Linked DNA regions of Homo sapiens: all the other regions are linked to region 1. Evidence: fine-mapped expression QTL. A gene starts in region 1. Each other region holds a variant in brackets. All regions are shown on one strand. Distances are from middle to middle. Region 1 holds the start of EFEMP2 (EGF containing fibulin extracellular matrix protein 2). Region 2 overlaps SNX32 (sorting nexin 32). Region 3 overlaps MAP3K11 (mitogen-activated protein kinase kinase kinase 11). Region 4 overlaps LOC124902693.

Region 1 (5,141 bases):
GGCGCCACTGCACTCCAGCCTGGGCGACAGAGCAAGACTCCGTCTCAATTAAAAAAAAAAAAAAAAAAAAGAATTCACCTATATTGTGGCATGCATCAGTACTTCATTAGTTTTTATGGCTGAATAATGTTCGACTGTGTGGATGTACTGCATCTTGTTATTCATCAGTTGACGGCTTTTGTGTTGTTTCTGCATTTGGCTCTTATATATAGTGCAGCTATAAACGCTGCGTACAGATTTGTGTGTGTGTACATATCTTTTCAATTATCCTAGGTATGTATACCTAGGAGTGAAATTGTCAGGTCATGTGATAACATTTTGAGGAACTGCCAGACCATTGTCCACCAACAGTGCATGAGGGCTCCAGTTTCTCCGTATCTTTGCCAACACTTGTTACTGTCTTTCTCGTTTTAAAGAGCTATTATTATTATTACTATTTTTGAGATGGAGTCTCGCTCTGTCGCCCAGGCTGGAGTGCAATGGCACAATCTCGGCTCATTGCAACAACTGCCTCCCGGGTTTAAGAGATTATTCTGCCTCAGACTCCCGAGTAGCTGGGATTAGAGGCACGTGCCACTACACCAGCTAATTTCTTTGTGTTTTTGTAAAGACAGGGTTTCACCATGTTGGCCAGGCTGGTCTTGAACTCCTGACCTTGTGATCTGCCCACCTTGGCCTCCCAAAGTGTTGGGGTTACAGGCGTGAGCCACCGCGTCGGGCCTATTATTATTATTATTATTTTAAGATGGAGTCTCCCTCTGTCACCCATGGAGTGCAGCAGTGTGATCTGGGCTCTCTGCAACCTCCACCTCCCGAGTTCAGGTGATTCTCCTGCCTCAGGCTCCTGAGTAGCTGCGACTACAGGCACGCGCCACCACGCCTGGCTAATTTTTATATTTTTAGTAGAGACGGGGTTTCACCATGTTGTCCAGACTGGTCTCGAACTCCTGACCTCAGGTGATCCACCTGCCTCGGCCTCTCAAAGTGCTGGGATTACAGGCTTGAGCCACCGCGTCCGGCCCCTAAAGAGCTATTATTTAACCTTCTGCCCCAGCAGCTGGGAGGGATGGTGGTGGCAGAGTGGCGAGGAGCGGGCACTGCGCAGTTCACCTGAGCCCCAGGCGCTCGCCGCGGGACCCACCAGCACGTCCCCTCCTCGGCAGACTCCCTCCCCGGGGTCACGTGGAGGGCGACTGCGGGGATAAGCAGGGATGGCAAGGGGAAAGGAAGGGCGGGCCCCAGGCGGGGGATCCCCGGACACGCAGTGCTTTCCCGCCTGGCCCCGCCCAAAGACGTGGGCAAACAGAGGCCACGCCCTTCCTGGGAGCCAGCCCCGCCCATACTCCGCCCCAAGGACACGCCCCCACTTCGGGCGGAGGCGGAAACCGGGCGGGGGACGCTGGTGCGAGGAGGTCGAGGAGGCGCCTTGGCACCCGACTCTGGCATCCCGCACGTCCGACATCAGCCCTGCCCTCCTTCTCAGGGGCTTCCATTCATTTTGTGCCAAAAGGGAACTGCCGCCCTCGCCCCCAAACTTGTAGCTTTGTGGATGGAGGGTGTGGGGGAGGCCGTGTGTAGTGAAAGGACCACCCGGCTGAAGACGGTCCTGGGGGTGGAGGGCAGGAGGGAGCGAGAAGGACAGTTCTGCTCCTGGGAGCCTCTCGTTCCTGGGCGAGGGTCTGGGGACCCTGGATGAAGTTTTAGGATCTTTTACAATGACGGTCTGGGGCAGAGAATAAAATTTTGCAGGGAGCAGATTGAGGGTCTGGAGGACTGGGTTAGGTGGGCTCTAGGTACCCAGGACGATCTCGGGAGGCGCACAATGAGAATCTGGGGGCTCCAGGATTACGGTGTGGGTGCACAGGATGAAATTCTGGGGGCGCAGATTAGGTAGGACCTAGGTGAGCAGGATGACATTTTTGGTGAGCGTCTGGGGGCCCCCGGGTGAGTCTGGGGGCCTGGCATCAAGGTCGGGGCCCCAGGATCGAGCACTGGGGGACCCTGGTCCGGCGCCGGGAGGCGGCTCCTGGCGGCGCCGCGGGGGACCGGGTAGGGGCCTGTGGCTGGCCGGGGGCGGAGAAGCGGGGGGTCGGGGTCCCTCCCCCTGGCGCTGGCTCAGGAATCCGCCGAAGGGCGGGCGGAGGCGCCGGGGTGGGCCGCGCCGCGGCAGGCGGGCGGGCGGGGGGCGCTTCCTGGGGCCGCGCGTCCAGGGAGCTGTGCCGTCCGCCCGTCCGTCTGCCCGCAGGCATTGCCCGAGCCAGCCGAGCCGCCAGAGCCGCGGGCCGCGGGGGTGTCGCGGGCCCAAGTGAGTGGCTGTGACCGTCCGTGGGGGAGGGCGTGGGCCGGAGTCTCGGCCGAGTCCGCGGCAGCGTAGCGCCCACAGAGGCCCGCGCTCCTCGGCCTTCGCCGCAGGGGCGCGGGGCGGGGGCGGGGTGGCCGGGGCGGGTGGGCCTGGGACCCGGGCCTGGGACCTGGGCCTGTGAGGAGTCGGCCCCCAGCCCTGGGAGGCCCCGAGGCCCAAGCACGGTCCTGAGCGGGCAGTGGCGGGGGCTGGGCTCGGGCTCCCGGTACAGGGAGTTGAGGTGCCGCGGGCAGAGGCCCCTGACCCGTGTCCACCATCTCGCAGCCCCAGGATGCTCCCCTGCGCCTCCTGCCTACCCGGGTCTCTACTGCTCTGGGCGCTGCTACTGTTGCTCTTGGGATCAGCTTCTCCTCAGGATTCTGAAGAGCCCGACAGCTACACGGTGGGGACAGTGAGGGCCGCTGGCCTGGGACAGGAAGGGTAGGGAGGAAGAGACCGGGACCCAGGGTGACTGCTGCCGGGGAAGTCTTCCTCCCCTGGCTGGTGGAGAGCTGGGGGCCATTGTTTGGAGCAGGCCGGAGGGTGGCCAGGCTCAGGCCCTAGTCTTGGCCTGGCCAGTTGGAGGAGATCTTAGGGTGACCACTGGCCACTTCTGGTTCCCTTCCAGGAATGCACAGATGGCTATGAGTGGGACCCAGACAGCCAGCACTGCCGGGGTGTGTGTGCCTGGGGGACCAAACACCCCCAGGAACCCGGAAAGGGATTGATAGCTGCTTTCCAAGGGACAGCCCCACCTCCAAGAACTGCCGTGGGAGCCCAGCAGCCCGTTCTATGCCCAGCTCTGCTACACAGAGGCCAGCTCTGGCTCTCTGGAGGCCAGTTGAGCTAGGGGTGGCCTCATCCTCTCCCAGAAACCCAGGAAACCTTGTCCCTACCCCTCAGAGGAGCTGGATCCTGTACGCCTTCTCTGAACCACTCTCCTGTCCCAGCTCTTTGTCTCATCACAACCTGGGAGGGTAGCGTCCCCAGGGGTGGGTAAGGAGGCCCCCCATCTTGGGCTGAGCTAGGGCTAGGGCCGTGGGGAGGGATAGAGACCCACTTGCAGGCCGAGAATGAGGGCAACAGTGGGAACAGCTGCCCCATCTCCAGCCTTGGCCAACCCTGGGGAGGGGTCCTGAGCAGGCAGACTTAGCTTGTTGAGCAGAGTGGGAAGGCTTTGCTGGGGCCACACATCTCAGAGAAGGCCGAGCTGGGTTCCTGCCTCCGCTCCCTCCAGGGCCAGCCCAGGAGACTGGCTGTGCCCAGCAGGCCCCTCTCTGCAGATGTCAACGAGTGTCTGACCATCCCTGAGGCCTGCAAGGGGGAAATGAAGTGCATCAACCACTACGGGGGCTACTTGTGCCTGCCCCGCTCCGCTGCCGTCATCAACGACCTACACGGCGAGGGACCCCCGCCACCAGTGCCTCCCGCTCAACACCCCAACCCCTGCCCACCAGGCTATGAGCCCGACGATCAGGACAGCTGTGTGGGTGAGTGGGGACTGCTCTGGTGCCTGGCTTCCAGTCCTCTCACCAGGCGTCTTAAACTCAGACCTCATGTTCCTCCCCAGCTCAAAAGGGCCACTGGTGATGTCCACACCCTCATCCAGACACTCATGTTGTTTAGGACCTGCCGCAGGTGGCCCCAGCTTGTGTGCCACTGCTCCAGCCAGCTCCGGGCCCCTCCCCTCGGTTGCTGCAGAGACACTGCAGGAAGTCTGCCTTCCAGTGTCTGTCCCCTGGGAGCCACAGGCCTTGGAGGAAGGACAGTCCAGGAATCAGTGTTGCTGGGGATGTTTGGACAGGACCTTATTTCCTGTGCAACCCCCAACATGTGGTTTTAGAGGTTAGGGGTGCCTTTCCTGATGGCTCCAGGCTGGTGAACTCTTACGCGTGCTGTTGAGAGAACCGAATACAAGTGTTGGAACTATCTGTCATGTTGGGTGGTGTGCGGGATCCCAGGCAGGGGCTGAGTGGTGTCTCTCGCAGATGTGGACGAGTGTGCCCAGGCCCTGCACGACTGTCGCCCCAGCCAGGACTGCCATAACTTGCCTGGCTCCTATCAGTGCACCTGCCCTGATGGTTACCGCAAGATCGGGCCCGAGTGTGTGGGTGAGTCCAGGAAGCAGCTTCTGTAGTCCCGGCTTTGTGTCCCTGGTCTGGCCCTTGCCCTAGCACCTGACCCCCATTCAAGCCAGGCTTCACCCCCGGCCCCTGCCACCTCACCCTCCGTCATCAGACACAGAGGACTGTAGCGGGGAGTGTTTGGGAGGTGTCCTGGCTGACCCTGCCTAATTCAGCTCCTCGGACACAGGATTATGGGTGGTGAAGCCTTGAGTCCCAGCCGGCTCGAGCCCACCTGCCCTCTGCCCTCTGCCCTCCGCCCTCCTTCTCCTGCCTCTATCCCTAGACATAGACGAGTGCCGCTACCGCTACTGCCAGCACCGCTGCGTGAACCTGCCTGGCTCCTTCCGCTGCCAGTGCGAGCCGGGCTTCCAGCTGGGGCCTAACAACCGCTCCTGTGTTGGTGAGGCTGGGCTGGGCCAGGCTCCTGGGTCCTGGGCAGGGAGGTGTGAGGTGGGGGCGCTCCCTTCTTGACCAGCCCAGGTAGAGTGGAGGCTCTGGGCTCCTCCTCCGCTTTCATCCCTCCTGTTTTTCCTGGCACCCCCAGATGTGAACGAGTGTGACATGGGGGCCCCATGCGAGCAGCGCTGCTTCAACTCCTATGGGACCTTCCTGTGTCGCTGCCACCAGGGCTATGAGCTGCATCGGGATGGCTTCTCCTGCAGTGGTGAGAGCTC
Region 2 (5,141 bases), 20 kb after region 1:
CCCTCCCTGTGCCGGCTGGTTCCTCTCCCTTTTCCCCTGGTCACGGCTACTCATGGAAGCAGGACCAGTAAGGGACCTTCGATTAAAAAAAAAAAAGACAATAATAAAAAGGCTCATTAATGGGATGTGTTTTTCAAGGTTGGGACACAGGAGACTTCAGGATTGGGGGTGCACTGGGATAATGGTGCTATCTCTCTCCTCTGTACTCCACACCCAACCAGCCCCTGCACACCCTTATCTGGCTCCAATGACTGGCTGAGACGCCTTTCTGATGGTCACCATTATTCTGTTGGTGCTGTGATTGACACTGGACTGGCTGTTTAAGGAGTGGGTGCTGGCTACAGGGGTCTTCCAGCGGAAGTGATTTATGCCTGAACTGGGTGCTCTGTAGCCTTGCCTGGATGGACAGTGAGGTCCATCTGATATTCTGTTCTGTCCCTTTCTAGGTGTGGGCTGATAGGCAAGTCAGAGGTAGCTCAAAGGTTCTGTTTGGTCTGCTGTCTTCCCTGGATGGCTGACTCAAGTTTATGAGGGTCAGGTTCAGTGGCTGCTGTGAGTCAGGCCAAGTTGAGCCTTTGACCTCCTCTAGATGTGGCTGGAGTGCATTCAGGGTGGGGCCAGCCAGGTGGAGCCCGGGACTTCAGACCCCGGTGTCTTGAGCACTGCCTCCCTGTGTTTAACCAAAAGGGTGTTGCCGGTACCCTGAGCCTTTTGCCAGCATTGTCAAGGGCTGTTTCCAGCCTGTACTTTGGGCTTTTTCCTGCCCAGCAGGCAAAGACATACAAGAAATCTGGCCCTAGGGTGAGGTGAACTGGGAGTGGTAATGTGGCATCTATATTTCCCTTATCAACTGAACTGAGGAAGAGTCCTCCTGGTGTTACAGTTGGCTCCATAACTCCTGGGAACTTGTGAGCGGTTCTGGGAGGAAGGGCTAGATCCCTTTTCTGGTTAGGAAATAGGTGTGGAGAACTTGGGATTCATTTTTGTGCTAGGGTTTATGGGGGTAGGGGCAAACCTGGAAGACTTCTGGGGTTCCTAGGTCCCAGCTTCTGGGTGTCGCGCCTTCCCACAGGGAGCCTGCTGTCACTGGAGAGAGGGCTGAGGATGCTGCAGGGGTGCCCTCCTTGGTGTCTCCAGGATCTGATCATACTGCCTTGGCAGAAAGTGTGCCTGGTGGACCTTTGAGCTGTGGGAAGGGAAGTAAGGACAACAGGCCTCCTTGCTACAAAACCAGGGTTTTTATTTGCGAAGGAGAACAGGCCGGGATCAAGTGAGCTATGATTCCTTCAGGGCTATGGGTGAGGGTAGAGGCTGTTCCTCAGCTTCCTGGGGAGAGGTGTCAGGGTCCCTGGGGCTCTGCTGACTGTGGCCAGTTATGATGCCCATGCTGCCCTGTGTCTTGCAGGGCCTGGCACCTGTGGTGGTGGTGATAGGGGGTTTGGGCTTTCCCTGAGAGGATGTGGGGCAGAGTGAGGGTGTGGCTAGTGGCACTGCTAGGGAAGGAGACATCTTGCCGGAGAGAGGGGTCTGGGATACCCTGGTCACTGGAGATCCCAGATTAGGGTCTGGCTGAGCTCTGGCTACTCTAAGGCTCCCCCTTTAGGGCAACAAGGGTGTTCCGGAGAATCAGGGTGCTGGCCTGCAGAGGAGAAACAGGTCCTTGAAGTCCCCTGCTCCCTGAGTCAGGCTGCCATTCTTTCTGCACCTTAGATGCTCCCTCGCTCCCCACACCCCTGCTCTCTGCAATAACAGCTGCTGTTAATTGGGCCTTCCTACCCAGAAGGCACGGGTCCTGAGCCAGGGAAGCATGGCCCCAAGCCTTAGCTGGGGCTCCTCTCATGCACACACACGCGCATACATGCGTGCACACCCTCACATGCACGCACACCCTGGTGCCTGGGGGAGGGAGGGAGGTGGGAGGTGGGAGGCTTCACAAGGGCCCAGTGAGGTGGGAGGGCTCACCTTGGCGTGTTTGAGCTCCAGCTCTGCCAGCTCAATGAGATTCTTTCGAAAAGAGGAGACCCGGCGGGACTTGAAGTCCATGAGCTCTGGAGAGGAGGGGAAGAGGCATGGGGATCCGGGCAGGGCAGGGCATGTGGCCCCAGGCTGGGGCTGGGGGCTGCGGGCTCACCTTGCTTGGCGGAGTCGGAGAGGCGCTCGAAGCGTTGGCAGCACAGCTGCTGGTGGCTCTCGGCGGGCCGCACCTCCCGGTTCCTGGTGCGCGCCTTGTCCAGCGCCTTGTTGGCATTCTCGTAGTCGGCCAGTGCCCGCAGCCGCCGGTACAGCAGGTCCTAGGACCATGGGCACAGGGTCACTGCTGCCCTGTCCTGGCATCCGGGCCTGAGCGCTGCGCTGGGGCTGCCTCTCACCTTGGCTGCCTGTGAGTCACGCATGTAGTACCTCAGCATGTCTGACAGCTTCAGGTCCTCATCGGAAGCCACCCGGCCCTCCAGCTTCTGCATCAGAAAGGTGGGCACTGGGAAGGGAGCTTGTCAGAGGGGCAGCTAAGGGGTGGGAGGCACCTCTTCATCTAAATATCCAGCAAAGAAGCCTTAGGTAACTGTTCCAGGTCAGGTCTGGTGTTGAGGGGTGCAGGCCAGGGAAGGCTTCACAGAGGAAGTGGGATCTAGTCTGGATCTCGGGGACTGAGTAAGAGCTGGACAGAGGGCGCTGAGGGCTTGGCAGCTGTGCAAGCCCGGCTATGTGTTCAGGGAAACTTTAGTTCAGGGAGGGCACTTGGGCAAAGCAGGGGAGGGAGGCAGTGGCTGGAGCACAAGAGGCTGAAAGTGGAAGCTCAGGACTTTAGGAGCTTCCAGAAGGGGCAGGGTCTCTGAAGGGCCTTGAGCAGGGAAGAGATGCGGTCCAATAGACATTTTAGGAAGATGGCAACACTCCAGTGACTTTCTTAGGGAAGAGTGGGGAACATGTGTGCCCGGGCAGTGTGCTGGCAGCTGGGTGCAGCCTGCCAGAGGTTTGGGCACACCCTTGTGCCTCCCAACCCTCCGCTGCTGCACACGTGCATACATGTGCATGCCCCTGCACCCCCCAACACACACACGAAGCTGGATCCTTGTCTTCACCCCACCTTTTGTTAAACTAGTCTGGAGTGTAAGCCCAACTTGCCACTGGGCCCAAGTT[A/G]TCACTGAACCCAAGATGATCCTGGAGCTCTTCCCTCTGCCAGGACTCATCTTCCCTGCAAAGCTCACCAGGAAAGCCTTTGAGCACAGAAGGCAGTACTCACCCTCAGCCGTTCAAAGAGCTCTGCCAATTTGAGGAAGCTCCTAGGAAGCAGTAGGGAGGGAGTTAGGGTAGGGGGCTGAGGAACAGCTCAAAGCCTCTCTGTCTCAGCCTCTCCTTGGGAATCTCCCTCTCCCCTTTCCTTCCCAACACCATCCCCCAACAGGAGAGCCTACACCTCCCACCTAGAGCTGACAGTAGACATCTACAGAGTGACCCCTCATGGGAAGACATGGTATTACAGGCACAGGGAGAGGGTAGGGGTGGGGGGAGTCCTCACGTCCTTAGCTGGTTGACTTCCTGTGTTCCCAGACTGCTCAGCGCAGCTGAGATAGGGATATAATCGTCTGCCAGGCCTGTTGGGGAACAGCCCCCATCAGAGCCCCTACATCTGCATGTCAAGCCTTGGTGCTTGTGGCCACAGACAAACAACAAGGCACGCCCTGCTCTCTTCTCTCCCCCAAGGAGTTGAACCGCTGGGGAGAGGGGCAGGGGGATCCAGGACCCCTTGGGCCCTGCGTACACTTGTGGGCGCGCATGACGCGGTCGGCCCGCAGGCAGGCATCTCGGATACGGGTGTGATACTCCAACAGGAAGGTCCTCTCATGCTCAAAGAAGTCATCCACCTCCTAAGGGAGCCAGGCAGGACCCCATTTACACTGGGTCACCACGGGGCTTGACAACACAGGCACCCAGGGTTGGCAAAATCTCCTTCCAAACCAGGCCAGGCCCCACCAGTGGCTTCCTTCCCACACCCAGCCTGGGCCTCAATCTGTGCTGTGGACTTGAGGTGCTGGGTTGAATCCGGAGAGGAGCACCAGGGGTTACCTTGAGCCCTGACATGCCCGTGATGAGGGCTTCATCCGCGGACTTCACAATATTCCTCAGAAACCCTCCGAGGAGCTCCTTCCTGTTCTTCCCCCGGACACTCAGCTGAGGCACACAGGGAGGGTATGATGCTGGGGTGGGCGTTCTCACCTCCCACCCCAAGTTGCAAGCCACTCACGGAGCTGTGACACAGGATTGGGCCCACTTGGGCCCCTTCTCCAGCCCTGCCACCCCTGGGTGCCTCCCCACCCAAGGTAGACTCCTGGCCCAAGGGTGACCCCAGGGATTCGGCCCAGCTCACATCCTGTCCATATTCCAAAAACACAAAGAAGTTGTGGTCTCGACGCAGGGTGGGGTGGGCCGCCAGGCGCTGCAGAAAGACTTCGTGCATCGCAACTGTCTTCTTAAAGATGGCCAGGTACTCCCTGCGAGAGTGGCAGCAGCTCACCGGCCCTCCTCAGCCCCCATCATCCTGCCTGCCCCCTTTCTGGGGTCAGAGGTCAGGGTTGCTAAACATTCATGGGGAGATAGCTGGGGAAGACATCTGGACTCTGGGGATGGCAGGGAAAGGAGGGGGCACTCACGCTTCCAGCTCCTGCTTCATCTTGGCAAACTCTTCCCGAGTGACAGAGCTGTCCCCCTCGCCCAATTTCTGTAGCTTTTCCCTCGAAGCCTCAAAGTCTGGCCTCGGAGGGGCTGGGGGGATCTGCTCAAAGGAGGGACGGAGCTGGGAGGCCTCTCACTGCCGAGACGGCCATCACAGCCTTTGGTCCTCACCCAAGTGCTCTGCCTGTCCCTCCCAGCCCCTGCCCAGCCCCTCCTCACGATGAGGCCGGCGTACTCCTCATTCTCCACGTAGGCATCATGCAGCCAGATGAACTCCTCGTGCTGCCGCACGACTGAGAACTCGGTCTGGGCGAAGTGAGGGAGGCAGCTCTGGAAGCGGGAAGGCCAACTGAGGTCCTCTCTCTGCCCCAAGCCCTGCCTCAGCAAGTCTGGGCATGCACTTTTGGGCCCCCCTCATCCCACATCCCAGGGAGGACAAAGTTAGAGCTCAGGTGTGCATGATTTCATTT
Region 3 (5,141 bases), 270 kb after region 1:
AATGCTCCCACAATATGAAATTGCAGATGTGTGGCCAGAAGGCCACATGTCTGAGGTTTCATGAAAGCACTGGAAACCATGGTAGTTACTGTTCTTGATAAGTATGTCGGCCTCAACACCAGTGCCCTTCCTGGCTGATGAAGAAATGGATTGCCACTTGCCCTGAAAGGATGTCAGCTGCCCAGCTCAGTGGCTGGCTGAGCATCTGGTTCCCCTAGCCCAATCCCACACTCCACGCATCATCTGGGTCCATGAAAGTACATGACATTGACCTCACAGCCACCCCCCGAAACCCAGCTAAGAATCAAATAATGGGGCTTCACAGAGGTCCCAGACCCTGTGAGATGGTCCCCGGCATAAGCCATACCACTGGAGAGTCACACACACCCTCACCCTGTCCCCAGTGGGCTGTTCTGGTCCCTGGAGAGCTGGCTGCAAGGAGTGGCACATTGGCAGGGTGCACTCAGCTACGCTGATAGCAACTGCCCTGTGAAGCTTGTTGCCTTAGAGCCAATAACTACGTGGCTGTGTCCTCCCTGTGAGACCTCACGGAAGCAGTTTCGCCTCTATCTATCTATCTTTGGGTCAAGAATAGTCACGCAGCTTTCTCCTAAACAACAGAGTTGCTAACTCTTGCTGCCAGGAAGCTTAGAGGCAGATTCAAATCCTAGCTGGATTATGTTGACCAAGTCCCTTACCCTTCAGAACCTCAGTTTCTCAGGCCATTGACTGCAGGAACTTCTGTTCACTCTCATTTTGTCTGCTGGACCCTATCTTCTCTTCCCTTTGTCTCATTTCTGTCTTTTATTTTTTTAAAGATAGAGTCTCATTCTGTTACCCAGGCTGGACTGCAATGGCATGATCATGGCTCACTGCAAACTCTGCCTCCCAGGCTCAAGTGATCCTCCCACCTCAGCTTCCTGAGTAGCAGGGACTACAGGTGCATGCCATGCTTGGCTAATTTTTATATTTTTTGTAGAGATGGGGTTTTGCCATGTTGCCCAGGCTGGGCTGCGCTTAAGTAGTCCACCCACCCCAGCCTCCCAAAGTGCTGGCATTACAGGTGTGAGCCACCACACCCAGCTTGCTCTTGCTATTTTCTTTTTTTTTTTTTAGAAGGAGTCTTGTTCTGTCACCCAGGCTGGAGTGCAGTGGTGCGACCTCAGCTCACTTCAGCCTCCACCTCCCACGTTCAAGCAATTCTCCCTCAGCCTCCCCAGTAGCTGGGATTACAGGCATGTGCCACCATGCCCAGCTAATTTTTTTTTTTTTGAGATGAAGTGTCATTCTGTTGCCCAGGCTGGAGGGCAGTGGTGCAATCTCGGCTCACTACAACCTCCACCTCCCAGGTTCAAGTGATTCTCCTGCCTCAGCCTCCCAAGTAGCAGGGATTACAGGCATGTGCCACAATGCCCGGCTAATGTTTGTATTTGTAGTAGAGATGAGGTTTCACCATGTTGACCAGGCTGGTCCCGAACTCCTGACCTCAAGTGAGCCACCTGCTTCAGCTTCCCAAAGTGCTGGGATTACAAGCGTGAACCACCATGCCCGGCCTAATTTTTGTATTTAGTAGAGACAGGGTTTGACCATGTTGGCCAGGCTAGTCATGCACTCCTGACCTCAAGTGATCTGCCCTACTTGGCCTCCCAAAGTGCTGGGATTATAGGCTTGAGCCACCACTCCCAGCCTCTCTTGCTTTTTTTTTTTTTTTTTTTGAGATGGAGTCTCACTCTGTCACCCAGGCTGGAGCGCAGTGGCGGGATCTCGGCTCACTGTAACCTCCGCCTCCTGGGTTCAAGCGATTCTCCTGCCTCAGCCTCCCAAGTAGCTGAGACTACAGGTGCGTGCCACCATGCCCTGCTAATTTTTGTATTTTTTAGTAGAGACAGGGTTTCACCATGTTGGCCAGGATGGTCTCGATTTCTTGACCTCGTGATCCGCCCACCTTGGCCTCCCAAAGTGCTGGGATTACAGGTGTGAGCCACCGCACCCGGCCAACTCTTTCTTTTTTTTAAACATGATTTCCCCTCTTCTGTTTAAACTCACTGTAAATGATCAGTTCTTCACCTGCGAAGTGGGGGTGATATGATAACCTCGTGGTTGGTGCAAGGATTATAAAAATGGATTCTTCATCAAACAAGAATTTGCTTTTTTTTTTTTTTGAGACGGAGTCTCGCTCTGTTGCCCAGGCTGGAGTGCAGTGGTGTGATTTTGGCTCACTGCAAGCTCCGCCTCCTGGGTTCATGCCATTCTCCTGCCTCAGCCTCTTGAGTATCTGGGACTACAGGCGCCCACCACCACGCCTGGCTAATTTTTTGTGTTTTTAGTAGAGACAGGGTTTCACCGTGTTAGCCAGGATGGTCTCGATCTCCTGACCTCGTGATCATCCCACCTGGGCCTCCCAAAGTGCTGGGATTGCAGATGTGAGCCACCGCGCCTGGCCCAGGGATTTGCATTTTAAGAGCCAGGCATCAACATGTTAAACACTGCCCTGACCTCATATGATGAAGCAGGCAGACTCATAAACAAGTCCAGTAGCACCTCTATGAGGCATAACGTGAGCAATAACTGTGTAGGTTCAGGGAGATTCTGGGAGGGCTTCACAGAGGAAGTGACATCCCAGTTGGTCTTGGATGGTGCATAAGAGGTCACTGAAAGCCAAGGTGGGAAAGGTCAGCCACCCAGAGTGAATAGTGTGTGCGCAGGCATGCAGCTCACCATACCCAAGGAAAAGGCAACCTGGCTGAACTCCGAGAAGAGTTGAGAGCCGAGGAGTCTCAGGACTGGGGCTGCGGACAGGGGCCAAGGCACATGGGTCAGTAGATG[T/AGATGT]TGATTGAATGAATGAGTGAATGAAGCTGGAAGTGATGGGTAGTTTTTAAGCAGAGACCTGTCTTTAACAGGTTTGCATTTTAGAAGGATTCCCTTGTCCCTTCAGTGGCAGTGGCCGGGGTGGGAGTTGGGTGAGGTAAGAGGCAGAGAGTCTGAGTAAGGGTTGGGGCTGACAGAAGGGACTGTGAGCTAAGTCCTGGTTCATAGTAGAAGCTCATTTTTCCCAGCCTTGTATTTCTCCCTCCCGACATCCAACCTGCTGCTGCACTCCAGGCAGGAGGGGAAAGGCAGAGGGACAAGGCCAGGGAGGGCTTCAGAGGACCAGCCAAGGAGGCCAGACTTTCTCCTAGTGACAGTGGAGAGCCACAGCAGTTTCTAGAGCCAAGGAGGGATCTGACAAAATCAGGGCTTGTGAGAGCCCATCCTAGAGTCCCTTGTCCTTAATGAGGGGTTCCCCATCCCTGCCCAAGTGGTCTAGAATGGAGTCAGGCCAACCCTAGACTGGAAGGTAGGACACTAGTGTCTTGAAATCTAGGGCAGAGTCTGGCTGGGAAATGGTGGAGAGCAAAGGTTCTACTGCCCTTGCCTGGGGTGAGGCCGGCTCCACCTTTCACTGGCTGTACAGCTCCGCACAAGCCCTCAACCTCTCTGAGCCTGGAACCCCTGGGGCATGAGAATCAGACAACATAATGCCCCTATGCCATTCAGCTCAGGCCTGGCACAAATACATACTCTGTAAATTAGCTGTGACCTTGGGCAAGGTACTGACCCCTCTGAACCTCATTTTCCTCCTTTCTAGAATAGAGACAGGGATTTATGCCCTCAGGGCTGCCATGTACCTTAGAGTTGACTGTGTGCATCTTATAAGCTACAGCTGGAGCGGGGGTGGGTGGGCAGAAGGGGCAGGGCTGCCAAGCCAGGAAGCTGGTGGGCACAGAGCACAGGGCGCCGGTCCCAGTCAGTGGGACCTGCCATGCCCCTGGGCCTGGAGGTTGCCCCTGGCAGGCCACAGAGGCCCACTGTGACCTGGCCCCAGCCTGCCTCCACTGGGACTGCCCATCCATCTTTCGGGTCTGGGGTCGCTGGCTGCCATTGGGCTTTGCTGCCGCTTCCTCCACCTGCACTGCCCTCCCCTCCCAGTGCCCATCTTGTGAAAGGCCAGAATGTGGGTATGTGATGGGGAGGCCATGGGACCTGTGGGACCAGGGAAGATGCTAGTAGAGGGCAGAACTCAGTCCTTGTTCCAAGACCACGGAGAGGTCTTGGGCCCTCACCCGGAATATGCACCAGCCACACCCTCACCTGTGCCGCCTCTGCCCGCAGGTAACCCCCCGCGGCCTAGCCTGGAGCCCGAGGAGCCCAAGAGGCCTGTCCCCGCAGAGCGCGGTAGCAGCTCTGGGACGCCCAAGCTGATCCAGCGGGCGCTGCTGCGCGGCACCGCCCTGCTCGCCTCGCTGGGCCTTGGCCGCGACCTGCAGCCGCCGGGAGGCCCAGGACGCGAGCGCGGGGAGTCCCCGACAACACCCCCCACGCCAACGCCCGCGCCCTGCCCGACCGAGCCGCCCCCTTCCCCGCTCATCTGCTTCTCGCTCAAGACGCCCGACTCCCCGCCCACTCCTGCACCCCTGTTGCTGGACCTGGGTATCCCTGTGGGCCAGCGGTCAGCCAAGAGCCCCCGACGTGAGGAGGAGCCCCGCGGTGAGTGGCCTGAAGCCGGCCTGCTTCACATATGGGAGACGGGGGTTCCCAGGGAGGGAGGAGTGGCTGGTGGGGACATGCAAGGAGGCAAGGCCGAGACCACAGTCATCAGCTGGACCCTGAACCAGGCATTCGGGGTACTGAAGACGCATGTAGGGAGCAGAGTTCTAAGTTCAGCTATCAGGTGGTCCAGGCAGGTGGGGGCGATGCCTGCTGTGAAATAAAAGAAGTAATCGGGCCAGGCAGTGGTGCACGCCTGTGATCCCAGCACTCTGGGAGGATCACGTGAGCCTTGAAAGGTTGAGGCTGCAGTGAGCGGTGATCATGACACTGGACTCCAGCCTGGGCGACACAGCATACATGTAATCATAATCGTAGCAAACTCCTGGCTCCTTACTTGTGCCAAGTACTGTTTGCAAGGCTTTCCCGAGATGGTCTCATTTAGTCATAACAACCAGAGAACTAAGCGCTCCTGGATGCCCATTTTTAGATGAGGAAATTTAAGGCACAGAGATTAAGGGACCCACAGCTCCCACAGCTAGTAAGTGGCAGGGCCGGGATCCACATCCAGGCCAGCCTGCTGCAGAGGCCTCACTCCTAACTATTACAAAAAACAG
Region 4 (5,141 bases), 61 kb after region 1:
TTAACGTTTAGAAACATTGTAGATAGAAAAAGCTAAAGAGCATTTTAGCAAACAGTGATTACCTAGAGATGCAAGTGCTTTGAATTTGAGCATTAGAGAACTTGTGAATTTGTAGGAGTTAAGCAGGACAAGTACCCATCTAATGAATGTTCATAAGGGAAGCGCGCGTGTAGGAGGCATTTCAGGTAGCCCAGCGCAGACCAAGGAGGGAAGGAAACAGATAAGATGTCAGAAAACATCTTCAAATACCCAGAGTTGTTATCCCCTCCACGAAACATTGGAGGGCGAATTGTTTGGGTCAGTAAAATAGAATCATAAAGTGTGAAGAAGAAACCTGTGGAACATTCTGGAAGAATTGGTCAGAGATGGGCCGGGCGTGGTGGCTCACACCTGTAATCCCAGCACTTTGGGAGGCCGAGGTGGGTGGATCACCTGAGGTCAGGAATTCAAGACCAGACTAGCCAACATGATGAAACCCCGTCTCTACTAAAAATACACAAAATTAGCCGGGCGTTGTGGTGGGCGCCTGTAATCCTAGCTACTCAGGAGGCGGAGGCAGGAGAATTGCTTGAACCCGGGAGACAGATTGCAGTGAGCTGAGATTGCGCCACTGCAGTCCAGCCTGGGCAACAAGAGCGAAACTCCATCTCAAAAAAAGAAAAAAAAAAAAAAAGAATTGGTAAGAGATGAATACCCCATCACAGCCTCTTTGATTTCAGAGGTGAAATAGTTGAACCCCAGACCTCACTGTCAGATGTAAAGAGTCACTCCAAATTTATAAGCTCATTAAACTAGTATTTCTGACCGTTTACACATTTGGCTGTAGAGAAAATACACAGAATGCTTCCAGCCACACCTATGCCTACTCAAGCCACTTAGCTGACAAGCCACTTAGCTTTTTCTTCTAATTACTCGGGTGCGCGTCTCTGTTATTTACAAAGTTTGGTGAAGTCAGGGCAGGGGGAATTTATGGTTCGATACCCTTTCTAGCACAGAGGGGTAAAATTCAGCCTGTCTTTTGAAATCAGTCTGAACTGTCAAACTCCCAGTTGAGGACTCCTCTCCCCAAATCAGGAATCTTTTTTGTTTTCTCTGGCTATGGGCCACAGTCAGGGCTTTGGAGTTCATTTGTATGCCCTCCCCCATCCCCATTAGTGTTATTGTGTATATTTGAGGTACTTATTCTTCACTGACCATAGGTGAATAGGAGCTGGTTCACCTAAAAGCTCCCACTCCCCATTCACTTTTTTTTTTTTTTTTTTTTTTTTGAGATGGAGTCTTGCTCTGTTGCCCAGGCTGGAGTGCAGTGGTGAGATCTTGGCTCAATGCAACCTCTGCTTCCCAGGTTCAAGCGATTCTCCTGTCTCAGCCTCCTGGGTAGCTGGAATTACATGTGCCCACCACCACACCCGACTAAGTTTTCGTATTTTTAGCAGAGACGGGATTTCATCATATTGGTCAGGCTGGTGTCGAACTCCTGACGTCAGCTGATCCACCTGCCTTGGCCTCCCAAAGTGCTGGGATCGCAGGTGTGAGCCACCGCACCCAGCCCCCATTCACTTTTGTTTTAGGAAATGAGAAAGCTTCTGCCTTTTTTCTTTCCTTCCTTCCTTGGATGTTAGTTAAGATCAGTGAGGTAATGGTGATAAAGTACTTTGAATTACCTCAAGGAGAGTGCAGCCCAACTTGTTATTATTTACCTAGGTCAGTTCACAAACCCCCACGATCTAGGGTTCCTGTCTCCTGCCCTGGGGATGGTGCCTGGGAGAAAGGAGATGTCACAGACCCAGTCCCACAGGGCGCTGTTGGCTGGAGTTGGTCATTCCTTACTTTGACATCAACAGGCTTATCTCTAGAAATAGGCTAAATGGTAGCTCAGGCGCCGGTGTTGCCTCATCCCGCAAACTCCCAGGGAGGCTGCCTACTTCCAGCCCCTGTTCTGGGAACTAATGATAGGTGGGATGAAAAGACTGTTTCCTCTGATGCGCTTTTATGAGTTGTTTTCGAAGATGAGGTGGCAAGGACATGGTTAACCCGCTCCCTTGTGCAGGGAGACATCAGAATGACAGGGCACGGGGAATCTCCCCAACCCGTTCCCAGGAGAGCTCTTGCCGAGGACGGCCCAGCTGTTAGCCAGAAATCAAGGCAGCCTCAAGCCCTGTAACCCAGATATCAGTGGGCTTTTTCGGCTGACGGTGCTGTGGCCTGCGGCAGGCGGCAGTGTGGGTAGAGGACAGCTGTGGCTGAGGCCGGCAGCTCTTTCCACACGACTTCTTGGGTAATGGCTCTTCTTAAGCCTGTGATATTTAGGGATTGTCAAACTTCCCTTTCATCCTGAGCCACCTTCCCTCATGGGTAGCAGAGGAGTTGGATTTCTTTCTTTTCTTTTCTTTTTTCTTTTTCTTTTTCGACAGAGTCTTGCTCTGTCGCCCAGGCTGGAGGGCAGTGGTATGATCTCTGCTCACTGCAACCTCCACCTCCCGGGTTCAAGTGATTCTTCTGCCTCAGCCGCCCGAGTAGCTGGGATTACAGGCACGCACCACCACGCCCAGCTAATTTTTGTATTTTTAGTAGAGATGGGGTTTCACCATGTTGGTCAGGCTGGTCTCGAACTCTTGACCTCAGGTGATC[CA/A]CCTGCCTTGGCCTCCCAAAGTGCTGGGATTACAGGCGTGAGCCACCAAGCCCGGTCAAGGAGTTGGATTTCTTATGACAAGAGTATTATGGCTGTGTGTCCCAGAGGAGGCACTGTGTCCTCATGAGGGTCCTTCACTGAAAGGAGAGCCTCGAGGACAAAGGAATCTTCTAGAGACGACGTTGGGAGGGAGGAGTGGAGTTTGCAGGTGACTCTAGAGGACCCCAAAGTCCAGTGGGAGCTCATTACCTCCTCGATAGGAGGAGCCTGTTGTTGTATGAGTGAGGAAAGGTGGCAGAACCGAGGCTGAGAGAGGCTGCGAAGATGCAGCAGCAGTGCTGAGGCCTGAGAGGAGGACACGTTCTATTACGCCAATTAATTCTACCCACCGAAAGGGCACATCACATTTTTGGGGTTGCCAAAAGCCGTTCTTAGCAGTAAAAAGTCTGTGAACTGCTGCACTGGGGATTGGCAAAGGCTTGGTAGCCAGCGCATTGAAGAGGGAGGGACAGCAAGCCTCACACCGGGAGTGGATCCTTCCTGTGTTTCTGCCACCACAGTTTGCCAGTTTGATGCCAAGGGACTCTTACTGTTTATGTGTGCATGTTTGTGCTGTTAGATTATCTTCTGAGCAATTTCAAGTTTTAAGAATATGTTGGTGAAGTCAACAATGAACAATTCCAGGAGACTTGGTTCCACCCGGGCCCTGCTCAGGAAAGATGAGGAGCCCCTCCCAACCCCACCCCTGCCTGTCCACATGGCCCTTCCTCCCCATCATCCACCATGGGGCCCTCCTGTGCCACAACATGGCTCTCATCCTTCTGTCTGGACACTTGCCCTGCCTCCTGGAGAGCCAGGCTCCTGCCCTGGCGGGCATGTGAGTGTGCATGTGTGTGAGTGTGCATGTGTGAGTGTGCGTGTTTGCGAGTGTGCACGTGAGTGCACGTCTGAACGTGTGTGGGAGTGTATACGTGAGTGCACGTCTCAACGTGTGTGCGAGTGTGCATGTGTGTGCGAGTGTGTACGCGTGAGTGCACGTGTGCATGTGTGTGCAATTGTGCGTGTGTCTACGTGTGTGCATGTGAGTGCATGTGTGTGTGATTGCGTGTGTGTATAATTGTGCACGTATGTGAGTGTGCATGTGTGTACAATTGTGTGCGTGTGTGTGAGTGTGCATGTGTGTGCATGTGGCACGGAGGGGGAAGAAGAGAGTTCTCCTCTGTGGTGATCGCCACCATTCAGTTGAAGGGTTTAAGCTGAGCCAAGATGAAGCAAGAGTGACACCAAGTGCCAAGAACAAGTGCTTGCTGTGGTATCAGGTGTGCTCTCTCCTCAAATCAGAGGAGCAGAGAGAAGCTCAGTTCCAGTCTGCAGTGTTCACCCCTGTGAGAGGGTGCCGACCCATCCAGAGGTGGCCAGCCCCCTCCAGAGGTGGCTCAGTGCTGGCATGCCACTCTGCCCATTTGGACAAGGGGATGGCCTCTCTGGGAATTGGATGCGGAACCGAAGCTTTGAATAGATTTAAAAAATAAAATCCAAGGTGGGATGTTTTGTTGGCTAGAACATGATGCACAGACCCAGATTGCCGTTCTGGCCCTATTGCTGTCCTTCAGCCCCATTCGGAGAATGACCAGACCCCGAGGCCACAGTAGGACAAAGAAGAAGACTGACCCAGTTCTCTGTTTCCTGCTGCCATGCCCGGGCCTCTGCTGCCAGAAGTCTTCCCCATGAAGCCATAGGTGGGGGACTAAAAGGCATATTCCTGTGGGGTGACCCCGAGAGAGACTGGGCATGGTTTCCACCGAGGCACTGTTGGGGGCAGAGAATTCTTTGGTTGCCGGAGAGGACCACCTGGTGCAGACCAGACCTGCAGCTGCGGCTTCAGGGTAGGAGCATGGCCGCCTTGGTGTCGCCATCTGGCCAGTCCTTGTTCCTACAGTTCCACTCCCAGCCGTGTCCTCAGCTTGTACCCACTTGTTTTTTTCCTTCATGGAAGCTAAGGAGGGGACTGGGTTTGTTTGTCCAGATGCCACCAGTTGGATGACCGTTGCGGGTACAGGAGTGTCTTCACCACGCAGTGCCAGGCCAGGTCCCACCTCACATCTCTATTCCTCATCTGGGAATGCTGGCATCAGCAGGTTGATTCAAAACTAGGAGGTGTTGGGAAACCCCTTGGGCTGGAGATTTCGAACTGAGATTCAGATGAGAAAAAACATAGTGGGTGGGGTTCTGAGGCAGGAAGGAGACAGCAAAAGCTCCTGTCCTGACGCTCCGCTCGATAGCGGGGATCAACAGAGCGGCCTGGCATGGTTGGGGGCAGCTGCGCTGGCTGAACCCAGGTGCAAGGCTGGCCCTGGACGGCCTCTCCCACCTCTGGACACAGAGCCGCCCCGTGCCTCTCCATTCACCAGGCAAAACCACACCTGGAGTGGCGCGTTCAGTCTGGGGCATGTTGGCACCAGCAGGTGTGGATAAATCCAAGGGCTCCTTCGGAGGGAGGGCAGGGGAG

What was found. PIP is the estimated chance that this variant, and not a neighbour inherited with it, causes the effect. A credible set is the group of variants that fine-mapping cannot tell apart.
Region 2: its variant is the best candidate, but not a certain one, in a credible set for the expression of EFEMP2 in whole blood (TOPMed, PIP 0.89).
Region 3: its variant is the best candidate, but not a certain one, in a credible set for the expression of EFEMP2 in monocytes (Quach 2016, PIP 0.59).
Region 4: its variant is the best candidate, but not a certain one, in a credible set for the expression of EFEMP2 in whole blood (TOPMed, PIP 0.88).

What each region holds. Positions count from the first base shown.
Region 1 is chr11:65,869,847-65,874,987 of GRCh38, reverse strand. EFEMP2 (EGF containing fibulin extracellular matrix protein 2) reads left to right here and starts at 2,188. Exons shown (of 11, transcript NM_016938.5): 1 at 2,188-2,305; 2 at 2,627-2,744; 3 at 2,970-3,018; 4 at 3,625-3,831; 5 at 4,330-4,452; 6 at 4,751-4,867; 7 at 5,012-5,131. The coding sequence starts at 2,634. RefSeq lists a silencer at 1,126-1,185.
Region 2 is chr11:65,849,780-65,854,920 of GRCh38, reverse strand. It overlaps SNX32 (sorting nexin 32), which reads right to left. Exons shown (of 13, transcript NM_152760.3): 3 at 4,891-5,001; 4 at 4,650-4,771; 5 at 4,367-4,490; 6 at 4,066-4,170; 7 at 3,761-3,866; 8 at 3,518-3,593; 9 at 3,242-3,281; 10 at 2,370-2,456; 11 at 2,132-2,291; 12 at 1,963-2,048; 13 at 1,220-1,639. The coding sequence ends at 1,586. CFL1 (cofilin 1) reads left to right here. Exons shown (of 4, transcript NM_005507.3): 4 at 1-248. Among named protein-coding and RNA genes, the nearest start is that of CFL1, 5.8 kb to the left of the region's middle. RefSeq lists enhancers at 2,039-2,088, 2,139-2,358, 2,606-3,467, 3,989-4,148 and a silencer at 3,589-3,883. The variant A/G (reference allele first, on the strand shown) is at 3,139.
Region 3 is chr11:65,598,777-65,603,917 of GRCh38, reverse strand. MAP3K11 (mitogen-activated protein kinase kinase kinase 11) reads left to right here. Exons shown (of 10, transcript NM_002419.4): 9 at 4,150-4,524. Among named protein-coding and RNA genes, the nearest start is that of KCNK7, 5.5 kb to the right of the region's middle. The variant T/AGATGT (reference allele first, on the strand shown) is at 2,827.
Region 4 is chr11:65,809,035-65,814,175 of GRCh38, reverse strand. All of the region lies in intron 3 of LOC124902693, which reads left to right. Among named protein-coding and RNA genes, the nearest start is that of OVOL1-AS1, 21 kb to the right of the region's middle. The variant CA/A (reference allele first, on the strand shown) is at 2,632.